2 separate regions of the Homo sapiens genome follow, and region 1 is linked to region 2. Evidence: fine-mapped expression QTL. A gene starts in region 2. The other region holds a variant in brackets. All regions are shown on one strand. Distances are from middle to middle. Region 1 overlaps MMAA (metabolism of cobalamin associated A). Region 2 holds the start of MMAA (metabolism of cobalamin associated A).

The links. PIP is the estimated chance that this variant, and not a neighbour inherited with it, causes the effect.
Region 1: its variant is the best candidate, but not a certain one, in a credible set for the expression of MMAA in prefrontal cortex (CommonMind, PIP 0.63).

The regions. Positions count from the first base shown.
Region 1 is chr4:145,649,563-145,654,951 of GRCh38, forward strand. MMAA (metabolism of cobalamin associated A) reads left to right here. Exons shown (of 7, transcript NM_172250.3): 5 at 1,500-1,585; 6 at 4,432-4,581. Among named protein-coding and RNA genes, the nearest start is that of C4orf51, 28 kb to the right of the region's middle. The variant G/C (reference allele first, on the strand shown) is at 3,110.
Region 2 is chr4:145,617,088-145,622,476 of GRCh38, forward strand. MMAA (metabolism of cobalamin associated A) reads left to right here and starts at 2,298. Exons shown (of 7, transcript NM_172250.3): 1 at 2,298-2,320. RefSeq lists silencers at 2,127-2,566, 2,597-2,666.

The DNA.
Region 1 (5,389 bases), 32 kb after region 2:
AAAACTTTTCTGGGAACCCCATCTAATGACTGTTGCTTTGACTCATTCATCATATCTCGCTGAAAGGAGATCTTGTGAATGTGGTCTTTCATCTGATACACTGATACTCCTAATAACATTGGAATAAGAAAATAGGGAAGAATAAATATTAAATAGGCAACTAGAAGTCCATCACACCGAGAAAGGGAGAGAGTTTCCAGAGTTTTGGTGGAAGTAGATTTTTTTTTGAGGTGGGGTATCACCATGTTGCCCAGGTGGGAGCACAGCAGTACAATCACAGCTCACTGCAGCCTCAACCTCCCAGGCTCAGGTTCAAGCTGTCCTTCCACCTCAGCTTCCCAAGTAGCTGGGACTACAGGTATACCACCATGCCCAGCTAATTTTTGTATTTTTTGTAGAGACAGGGTCTCACTACATCACCCGGGCTGGAAGACAGTTTTAAGTGGGGTGAGATGAACATGAAGTGAAGTGGAAGGAGTCAGCATAAATTACCTTTTTCCAGAAACGAGTATTTTAATAAAAGTGAGAAACGTGGTGATAGTTGGAGGAGTTTGTGAGTTTTTGTCTTGTTATTTTGTTGTTGTTGTTTTTGTTTTATGTGGCTTTAAGATGAGAAAGATTTGAGCACAATTTATGTATTGTGCCGGGGGGCAAGAGCCTGTAGATAAATGAGAGGTTAAAGATAATAATCAGCAAGGACCCAGAGGAAGTGGAAAGGAATGAGAGATTCCTTTTCAGTCAAATAGTTCTTATTACACTGAGACTGCAGAGGAGGCAGTAAGGCTGAGTTTGTATTTGTGTCTTGTTACCTGTGGAGTACGGGAGAGGGAGAAGCCTAGGAAGTTCTTGCCTTTATTTCCTCTGTGAAGTAGGTGCTGTAGTCCTCATCAAGCGGGGAGATTATGGGACAGTGAATGTTCATAATAGCTGCTGTGGGAAATGGAACGGAAGCCAACCGAGGGCATTTAGGGAGATTGCTTTTGCCAGGCCGTAAGGAAGATGTAGCAGAGGCTGCCTGTCGTGGCTCTTGTCCACAGAGTTGAGTGATTTCTCTCACGTGCCTATGGAGGAGAGAACACACATAGTTGGATTGATCCATACATAATTGGGCGTTTGCAGGCAAGTATGAGGACAAGAAGACAAAAAAGATGAAAGTATTTGTAGGCATGATTCAAGATTAGAGTCACAGTGTTCAAGCTGCTCGCTGATGAAAAGGAAGCCAAGAAAGAGCTGTGAGAGTGAGGAGAGGATGGAAGCCTTTAGGTTCTCCATTCAATCCAAGAACGGAGCGGGAGAGCTGGGAAGGATAACGGGTTTGCTTAGAGGGTAAGATATGACATTTAATACATTCTTCAGAAGTGAGATGTTTAAAGGAGTGACCAGGTTGACTGTGTGACCATGAGTATGAGTAAATGAAGTAGAATGGAAATGGTCAATGTAGTTGAGAAAGTCAAATAATGGTGAGTATTTTAGGATATAGTTGTGATTTACAATTTCAGGTGTGGGTCAGTCGGAGTTTGCTGTTGCTGACATGGTTGACATGTTTGTTTTACTACTGCCACCAGCAGGAGGAGATGAGCTGCAGGTAATTATTTTTATTTTTTCCCCCAAAAATATAAAATGTATATCTCTGAAAATAAAAATTTCCAATGTTGTGTTTTTGTAAACTAAGTTGATAATGGTTTAGAAAATGAAATATCATTCATGTTGGCTAAAATACCTGAATCAAAGGCAGATTCTCTATATTTTTTCCTAACTTACAGGAATAGAATATGTGTCCTTGAGAATGTAAAATTATGCAACATTAATTTTTCCATCTGTAACATGACTGAAATACATGGATCGCTCCAGCCAGTAGAGACCATTGTTGCATAGATGTTGTTAGTACGTTGATTCAAAAGTTCTGGGGAGAGTGGGATCCCACTATCATAGTTTATATGTTGTACAATGAGATTCTTACTCTCCTCTGCACCGCAGTTCTGGCACAACTACCTAAAGTTAGTGCAGACTTTATAGGGTGAGGGCAGAGTCCTCCACAAGCCTCCTCTCACTGCAGACACTACTAGCTGCAAGCTCCAGGGTTCCCAGGCCACCCATACCTCTGACCAACGGGCTATAAATTTGAGGGTTCCCATTATCCCTTAGGTTTAGTAATTCACTAGAACAGTGGTCCCCAACCTTTTTGGCATCAGGAACTGGTTTCATGGAAGACAGTTTTCCACAGACTGGGGGTAAGGGGGGATGGTTTCAGGATGAAACTGTTCCACCTCAGATCATCAGGCATCAATTAGATTATCATAAGGAGTGCACAACCTAGATGCCTAGCATGCATAGTTGACAATAGAGTTTGTGCTCCTATGAGAATCAAATGTTGTTGCTGATCTAACGGGACAGAGCTTAGGCAGTAATGCTCGCCCCCCTGCTGCCCCCCTGCTGTGAGGCCCAGTTCCTCCGTGGCCTGGGGGTTGGGGACCCTTGCACTAGAGTGACTCAGAGAACTCAGGAAAGCACTATATTACAATTGCAGCGTGCTTATAAAGGAGACAAATCAGGACCATCCAAATGAAGACACACATAAGAAGCCTGGGAGGGCCGAAATGCAAAGCTTCTGTGTCCTCAAGACACATTTCTCTCCTGGCATATTGATGTGTATCACCAACCAGAAGGCTCCCCTGAGCTTTAGTGTCCCAAGTTTTTCTTGGGGTTTCATTATGTAGGCATGATTGACTGAATAATTGAAGTTGATCTCTAGCCCCTGTCCCCTCCCTGGAAGTTGGGTTGATATCACATGGCATAAAACCCCAACCCTCTAATCACATGATAAGTCTTTCTGCCATGGTCAGTCTCCCATCCTGAGTGATCTCATTGCATAAACTCAGGTATAGGCCGGGCGCAGTGGCTCACGCATGTAATCCCAGCACTTTGGGAGGCCGAGGTGGGCGGATCACGAGGTCAGGAGATTGAGACCATCCTGGCTAACATGGTGAAACCCCGTCTCTACTAAAAATACAAAAAAAATTAGCCGGGCATGGTGGCAGGCGCCTGTAGTCCCAGCTACTTGGGAGGCTGAGGCAGGAGAATGGCTTGAACCCGGGAGGCAGAGTTTGCA[G/C]TGAGCCAAGATCGCACCACTGCACTCCAGCCTAGGTGACAGAGTGAGACTCTGTCTCAAAACAACAACAACAACAAAAAAACCCAGGTATAGCCCCAGGCACCTCCCATGAATAACAGACACTCCTGTTACTCAGGAAATTCTGGGAATTTAGAACTTAAAAGATTACCTCCCAGAAACCCAAAAACCAGACAAATTTTTTCCTTTTTTTTTTCAGAGACAGGGTCTCACTCTGTTTCCCAGGCTGGAGTGCAGTGGCATGATCATAGCTCACTGTAACCTTGAACTCCTGGGCTCAAGCTACCCTCCTGCCTCAGCCTCCCAGGTAGCTGGGACTACAGCCATGTGCAACCACTCTCGGCTAATTTTTTAATTTTTTTTTCTACAGATGAAGTCTTGCTTTGTTGCCCGAGTTGGTCTTGAACTCTTGACCTCAGGCAATCCTTCTGCCTTAGCCTCCTTAAGTGCTGGGATTACTGGTGTGAGCCACCACACCTAGCCCAGACAAATTATTTGTTATACAATGCTTCTGTTTCAATTTTATAATTCTAAAACATAGTGATTGCAGACTATCGCTGCTTATTTAGAAACATTAACTATTAGTATTTCATAATTGAATGTTTTGTTTAAAAATATTTGAAAAGAAATTTTAATCTTATGTAGAAAAATCTGTATTTACTAAATAAGGTTTGGCTTTTGGATTTCATCCTTTATTTCTAATATTTTTATGTGACATAATTTGAATTAAGAGATTGAGGTTTGTCCACGCAAAGCTGAAATAAGAAAAATACAAAGTATAAAAATAAATAATAATAAAAAAAGAGATTGACATATTTTTAGGCATCAGGTTCTTTTTCCTCAAATGCAAATTGAAAATAAAATGCTATATACATTTAAGGAAAATTTCAAAGACTTTTTTCTGGAAATGCAGATGTTAAGGATAGGTGTTTTCTTTTTAAGCACCTTAATGATGAATGGTTTTGCATCCTGCAGTGTTAGCTCAGGAGAAGCACATTCCATCACGAGATAATGTGAACTGTCCTGCCACTCAATCATGTTGTGACTTGATGTATTTACCCTAATTCTGAATGTATTTCAACATGTTAGTCTCTAAATTTGGAAGAGATATTACAGATGACTTCTATAATTCCAATAGCCAATGCTTTTGAGTAATTTCTGTCAAGTAATGGTGATTCTTGGCATCCAGGGCTTAGGAGGATATGGATGAAAAGTTAATGAAATGTATGACTTTCAAAATCTGAGCATTGACTAGTTTTCCCATTTTTATGTTGGTTGTCATTAAATGTTTCTGATCTCTTTAGGGTATCAAAAGGGGTATAATCGAGATGGCAGATCTGGTAGCTGTAACTAAATCTGATGGAGACTTGATTGTGCCAGCTCGAAGGATACAAGCGGAATATGTGAGTGCACTGAAATTACTCCGCAAACGTTCACAAGTCTGGAAACCAAAGGTAAGCTTGCTTGCATTCTGTATCTTTCACTCTGAATGGATTGTGTACATTAGAAGACAGGATATAAGTCCCAAACTAGACATATAATCAATCTTGCTTCTATGTGAAGATGATAGTTTTAAAAATCATGACAAAGACGGAGTGTGTAGTCATGATTTTAAATATAATCCTTTAACCACTAGATGTCAAAAACTAGATCAGAGATGATAGATGTGATTGTAATACTTGATTTGAGCCATTTGGAAGTGATAGCAAATCCATTCTGAAAGGAACCATCCTTATTAAGATTATGGAGCAGTTAATGATTTGATTATCTATATTGGAATTTGATTCCCATTATGTTTGTTGGGTGCCATTTTCAGTAAGGAAAAAATTTTAATCCTGTAATAAGTGATGCAGTAATATTGATGTGGTCATCTTTATCTGTAGACAGACACTATGTTATTAAAGAATAAGCTGTAATCATTATAATGAGGACAATGATGACTTATCTTACTGTCATATCCCAGTTTTTCCCAATCATGTTGTCTGCATTGAGTCTGGATTCACCTCATATATACATGCAGATGTCAGATACCCAGCTCTTCCACTTGCTAAATCAGGCAAATTTGGCAGAGAGAATTAGGCTATTTCTCAACCTAGCTTCATTTTCTGGCACTCAGTCCTCAGGGGAACCTACCTGGCATTGCCCTTGTCACAAGTCCTCTATGATGCCCCTGACCATCTGAGCAATTAAAATAAAATAAATTAAATTAAAATAAATCTCTGGGCTTAAAATTTGACCTTGAATCAGTGTTTTATTTCTGCT
Region 2 (5,389 bases):
GCTGGGAGGCAGAAATGGGTTTCCAGCATTGCTAGCTACAATTTGTCCTCAACTATTTATTTTGAAAATTTTCAAATCTATAGATGAGTTAAAAGAACATTCATATACTATTCACCTGAAACTACCAACTTTTTTGTTGTTGTTGTTGTTTTGTTTTTTTGAGACTGGAGTCTCTGTCGCCAGGCTGGAGTGCAGTCGCGCAATCTCGGCTCACTGCAACCTCTGCCTCCCGGGTTCAAGCGATTCTCCTGCCTCAGCCTCCGGAGTAGCTAGGACTACAGGCACGTGCCACCACACCCAGCTCATTTTTGTATTTTTAGTAGACATAGGGTTTCACCATGTTGGCCAGGATGGTTTCGATCTCTTGACCTGGTGATCCACCCGCCTCGGCCTCCCAAAGTGCTGGGATTACAGGCGTGAACCACTGCGCCCAGCCCAGGTTCAAATTTTTTAAATCCTTAAGGCTATCTAGTTGACAGCTGTCTTTAATGTAGATCAGTCCTCCTGCCTTTTTTTATTGTCTTCCTTATTAACCTTATTGAAAAGTCCGAACAAATCACATTCAGAATTTATCTCAGTGTTTCCTCACAATCAGATTCAGGTTAAACATTTTTGGCAAGAGCTCTACAAAAGTGTATTTCCCATAGCCTCATAATGACAGGTTCATATTTTCGCCAGTATTGGTGATGCTAGCAATTTTTTTCCCATGAAGAATCTATTAACATTTTGCAAAACACTAATGTTCCATGGAAATGTGTTCCCTAAGCTGTACTGTTTAGAAAACTTCTGAATAAAAAAGTGACATGCATGAAAGTGTTTGAGTTTGTAGAACGAAAAGCAGGTAAGGATAAACTCAATTTTAAAATTAACAAACTTCTTCACTTCTAAGGTAGCACAAACTGAGCTTTCATCAAACGTAACCCTTACCGAAACAATTGTTCAGATGAGCAACGCCAAGTTTAAAGAAAGGAAGTAAACCGTCTCAAGAACTGTCAATCTGTTTGTGTTCGATAGGCTGAGATTTGAAAGGTTTGATTCTGTGTTCTTTCTACTAGATCCTCGGCTTCATTTAGACTTGTGCTTAATTTTCTGTCATTGGCTATTGAGTCTACAATCAATCTTTGGAGTAAAAGTGGTAGTCTTTTGGTCCAAATAGTAATAATGAAAATGGTGAGACCAGTAATTCATTTTTTATTATTCTGTATTCAGTAAGAATCAACCTGTATCAAATAGCTGAAAAGGCCTGAAGCCTCCCAAATGCATATCATTACACAAATTCTGTGTGAGGACTGACATCTTGGTTTCATATACTAATTATACTGCATGGGCCCCATTTATAACCATATCTACTCGTCATTTGATCCTGGCTACTGCCGATGGATGCTATCTTCATCACATTATAGCAAACATTTGGGTGATTAAGTTTTTCTCAAAAATTCTAGATTAGCATACAACGGCTTTACTACTTATATGTCATCTAAGACGTTTTTTAAGAATTAGTTACTACTACGCCCAACGCAGTGAGGTAGCAAATATTATGCCTGTTTATTTTCATCTCCATTTCAGGCTTGCGCGCCTTTCCCCCCTCGGGACTTCCCGAGGACACCCCTGCAGCAGTGAGCCCGAGTCCTGGCTTTGGCTGCATGTTAAGAAATATTAATCAAAATGAATGCGTGCCCTTTAAGAGAAAAAAACTGTGGGTCCTTCAGCCTTTAAAAACCATGCCGTGGTTTAAAAACTTAAAACTATATTTCGGCAGAACGCTGAGCATTTCTTCAAATCACTCTGAGAAGCTTGAGTGTCTTTAATTTCACCGGTCTGTCAAACGTAACGCGTCTCTCCCTCACCCCACATTTTAAGTTTCCAAGGAGCGGAAGAAGGGCCTCCGGGGGTCCCGGCCGCCGCAGGCTGCTGGGGGTGAGGACACGACTCGGCCTCCGTCCGACTCGAGGGTGTCGCGAAGGCCAGGAGGGAACGAAAGTTACCCTCGAACTTCGGAGGCGAAAGATTTCATGTGGATCTTAAAAAGGGCAAAACCTACCCCAAAGGCCGTAAACCGCCCTCCCCTCCCCCGCCAGAGAACTTCCCGGCGCAGAGCTTCCGCAGCCTGCTGCAGGCCGGGAGACCTTCACGCTCACTCGCTCTCCGCCACACGCCGGAACTGCGCGGCCACGTCCACGGGGACCCTGGCCATGCCCCGCACCGCCACCCAGCCCCAGGCGATCCCCGGGCCCCACGCGCCTGCAGTCGGCGCTGCGCCTGCGTGGGAGGATCCGGCGGAAGGGGCGGGGTCAGGTGGCACTTCCGTGGCTTCGGGCGGGTGAGTATGGGGAGTGCGCGCGGCGTCCAGGAGTCGGGACTGGGCTCCCGCCTACGGCCGCCCTCCCGCCGGGGGGCCAGCGCGGTCCTCCGGGGCGCCCCCTGGAGGATTTGGGGTGGGGGAAGGAAAAGGAGAGTATTATCGAATATTCTCCTAATATTGATGTTCGGGGTGCGGATATGTGTGGACAGGCAGGAGTCGGCAAATGGGTTCAAATGGAAGCTTTAACAAAGAAAGGCCCTGTACGTAAACAGTGTTTTAAAATTCTCATCTTGGTTAGGTTTCTCAGGTTATCTCTGAGCCACAGCAAGGCAGCTTTGTTAAGGTGGCTCTTCCCTTGTCGCTGCCAAACCCGGTAAATGGTTAACCTGAGGCCGCGTCAGAGAAAGCCACTATGACTCCTACCAAAGAGTGAAATTGAAACTCTTTTCTGGGAAATCAAATCCAGGATATAAAAGTTGGATTCAAACTAAAAGTTACAAACAGTATCTAGGTTCCGTCACATGGCGTGCCGGGCAGGGTCTAAATCTCTTTCAGCAGAGGGCATGCTGTCTTCATATGTATTTCTCATTAGAAAATGAAAGACGACCTAAACCAAAATAATATAAAAATTTTTTATTATCTGTCTTAAGAGTTGTACCCTAATCCATATGTTTAGAAAACATAAACTAATAAAACTTTTCCAACTTGGTAGAAAGCCAAAAGTTTCCAGAAAAACTGTGTGGATTATTCAGCATTTTGCTGTTGTCTACAATGTTCAGAATATTCTTTTACAATAATTTTGCACTAAATACCGGTTTGTGTTCAGGGTAACAAGAGGTTTTTAAAAAGTCAAAGACAAGGACAGGTTTTTTAAGGGCTGTATTCTATTAGGAGAGACAAAACAAGCATGAAAAGTTACATATCCATAAGAAATGTAAATCACCATTTGAGATATTTGAAGATGTCAAAAGAAAACCTTTATTTAGAATGGAAAGAGCTGGTGAATGCTCGAAACATTTACCATTTAGCTGATTGTTGCCATGTGGGAATGGGGGTCTCTCAAACGCAGATCCGATTTTCTCCAACACAGGCCAAAGATCTGTATTTTTACGTATTTTTTCTTGATTTTTAATGTTACTTGCAACCAATTTAGTTAACACACACCTTCTGTGGGTGGGCCAGGTGCAACTAGTTTGTGACCTCTGCAGATTTTCACCTTAGTACAGTCCTACACTTACACAATGGTTCAGTTAAAGATTTTTTGACTTTACAGTGGGTTTATCCAGACACAGACCCGATTGTAAGATGAAGACTCTTTGTATTCAGAAATAATTGGAATTAGAGGTCAGAAAAAGTCCTAGAGACTGGGATGGTCAGGAAAGATTTTAAGCTGGGTAGTATAGGAGAGATATCATAGAGGGGGAAGGATGTAAAAGATGAGTTAAATCTTGGGGTTGGGAGAGTTGGCAGGTTTGGAAGATAGTAAACTCTCCTTAGAGGAATTTTGGAAAGGCAAGCGCAAGAGGTGCTGCTGGCCTGGGGACTACACTTTGAGAACCACTGTCCTAGGGTACGGTGAACTTTTGGAGGAATTTGAGTAGGAGGCTAAGGAGATCACATTCACCTTTCAGAATGAGTCTTGCTGTGAAGTCTGAAAGGAGGACTGAGGAGGGAGAGAGAAAAGAGGAAAGTTTCTTAGAGGTGATTAGCACCTGCTTGATGCCAGGCCCTGTGCCAGGCTCTCTCATGCATACTCATTTATACTCACCATGATCCTGATACGTAGATCTTAATGTTTTCATTTTGTAAGTGAAGGAACTTTGAGAATATGAGAAATTACCCAGGTTCCATAGTTGGTCTCAGAGCTTCCTAGTTCAAGCCTGGATTTGAAATAGGGTGGTAGCAGTGGGAATCAAAACATTTAATGGTGATGGAATTTAGAAAAATAGAGACTTCTCAAGCACATTTAAGCCTAAAAGTAGGAATTGGGAAATCTGAATCTTACTGGAAAAGTGATAAAAAGTAAAGTGGACAGAGAACTTTAGAGAATCCCTTCATGAATTTGGTATTTGTTCTTTATTACTCTTAACTCATGATGACCTATTTAAAACCTATTTAAAAGTTGCTTATTTAAGAAGTCATCCTGCTCTACAAAAGTTTCCTGAAATTATTTGAAAAAGAGAAAATAAAGCCTTCTGTGGTTGGGGGGGGTGGAATATGGTAAACAGATTAATGGCATTTGACAGCTTATCTTCAAATCAAAAGTGATTAGCATTGAGAAATGGAAACACTTGGTACAACACTGCATTGCCTGTACGAATTGTGCTGTGCTGCAGACACTGATCTACTGTATTGATTTAGGAAATTCTGTATGCTTTTTCTTGCCAGAGTAGTTATTGAAATTGAGAATATTCATTGGATCAATTTCAAGATAAATATCCCAAGTCAGACTGGCTGCTGCTGAGCAAATTTTTAATGAAGGAAAATATCCATATATTGAAATCAGTTTAAAAAGAAAGTCCTTAAAATATATTACTGTAAAATCTAGAAAAAAATGTACATTTTAGAAACATCAATTAACTGAGTAATCAGTGTAGTGGAGTTATTGACCCATGCAGAATTATGGTGTACATTCATTAATTCTGTGAGCAAATAATTGTGCTATAAATACAAAGATAACTGATATGGTTTGGCTGTGTCCCTACCCAAATCACATCTTGAATTGTAACTCCCACAATCCCCATGTGTCATGGGAGGAGCCTGGTGAGAGGTGATTGAATTATGGGGACAGGTCTTTCCTGTGCTGTTCTCATGATAGTGAATGAGTCTCATGGGATCTGATGGTTTTAAAAATGGGAGTTTCCCTACACAAGCTCTCTCTTTCCTTGCTGCCATCCATGTAAGACATGACTTGCTCCTCCTTGCCTTCAGCCATGATTGTGAGGCTTCCTCAGCCACATAGAACTGTAAGTCCATTAAACCCTTTTTCCTGTATAAATTACCCAGTCTCGGGTATGTCTTTATCAGCAGCCTGAAATCAGACTAATATACTAGATATGGCCTACTTTTGAGATATCTTACTGAATC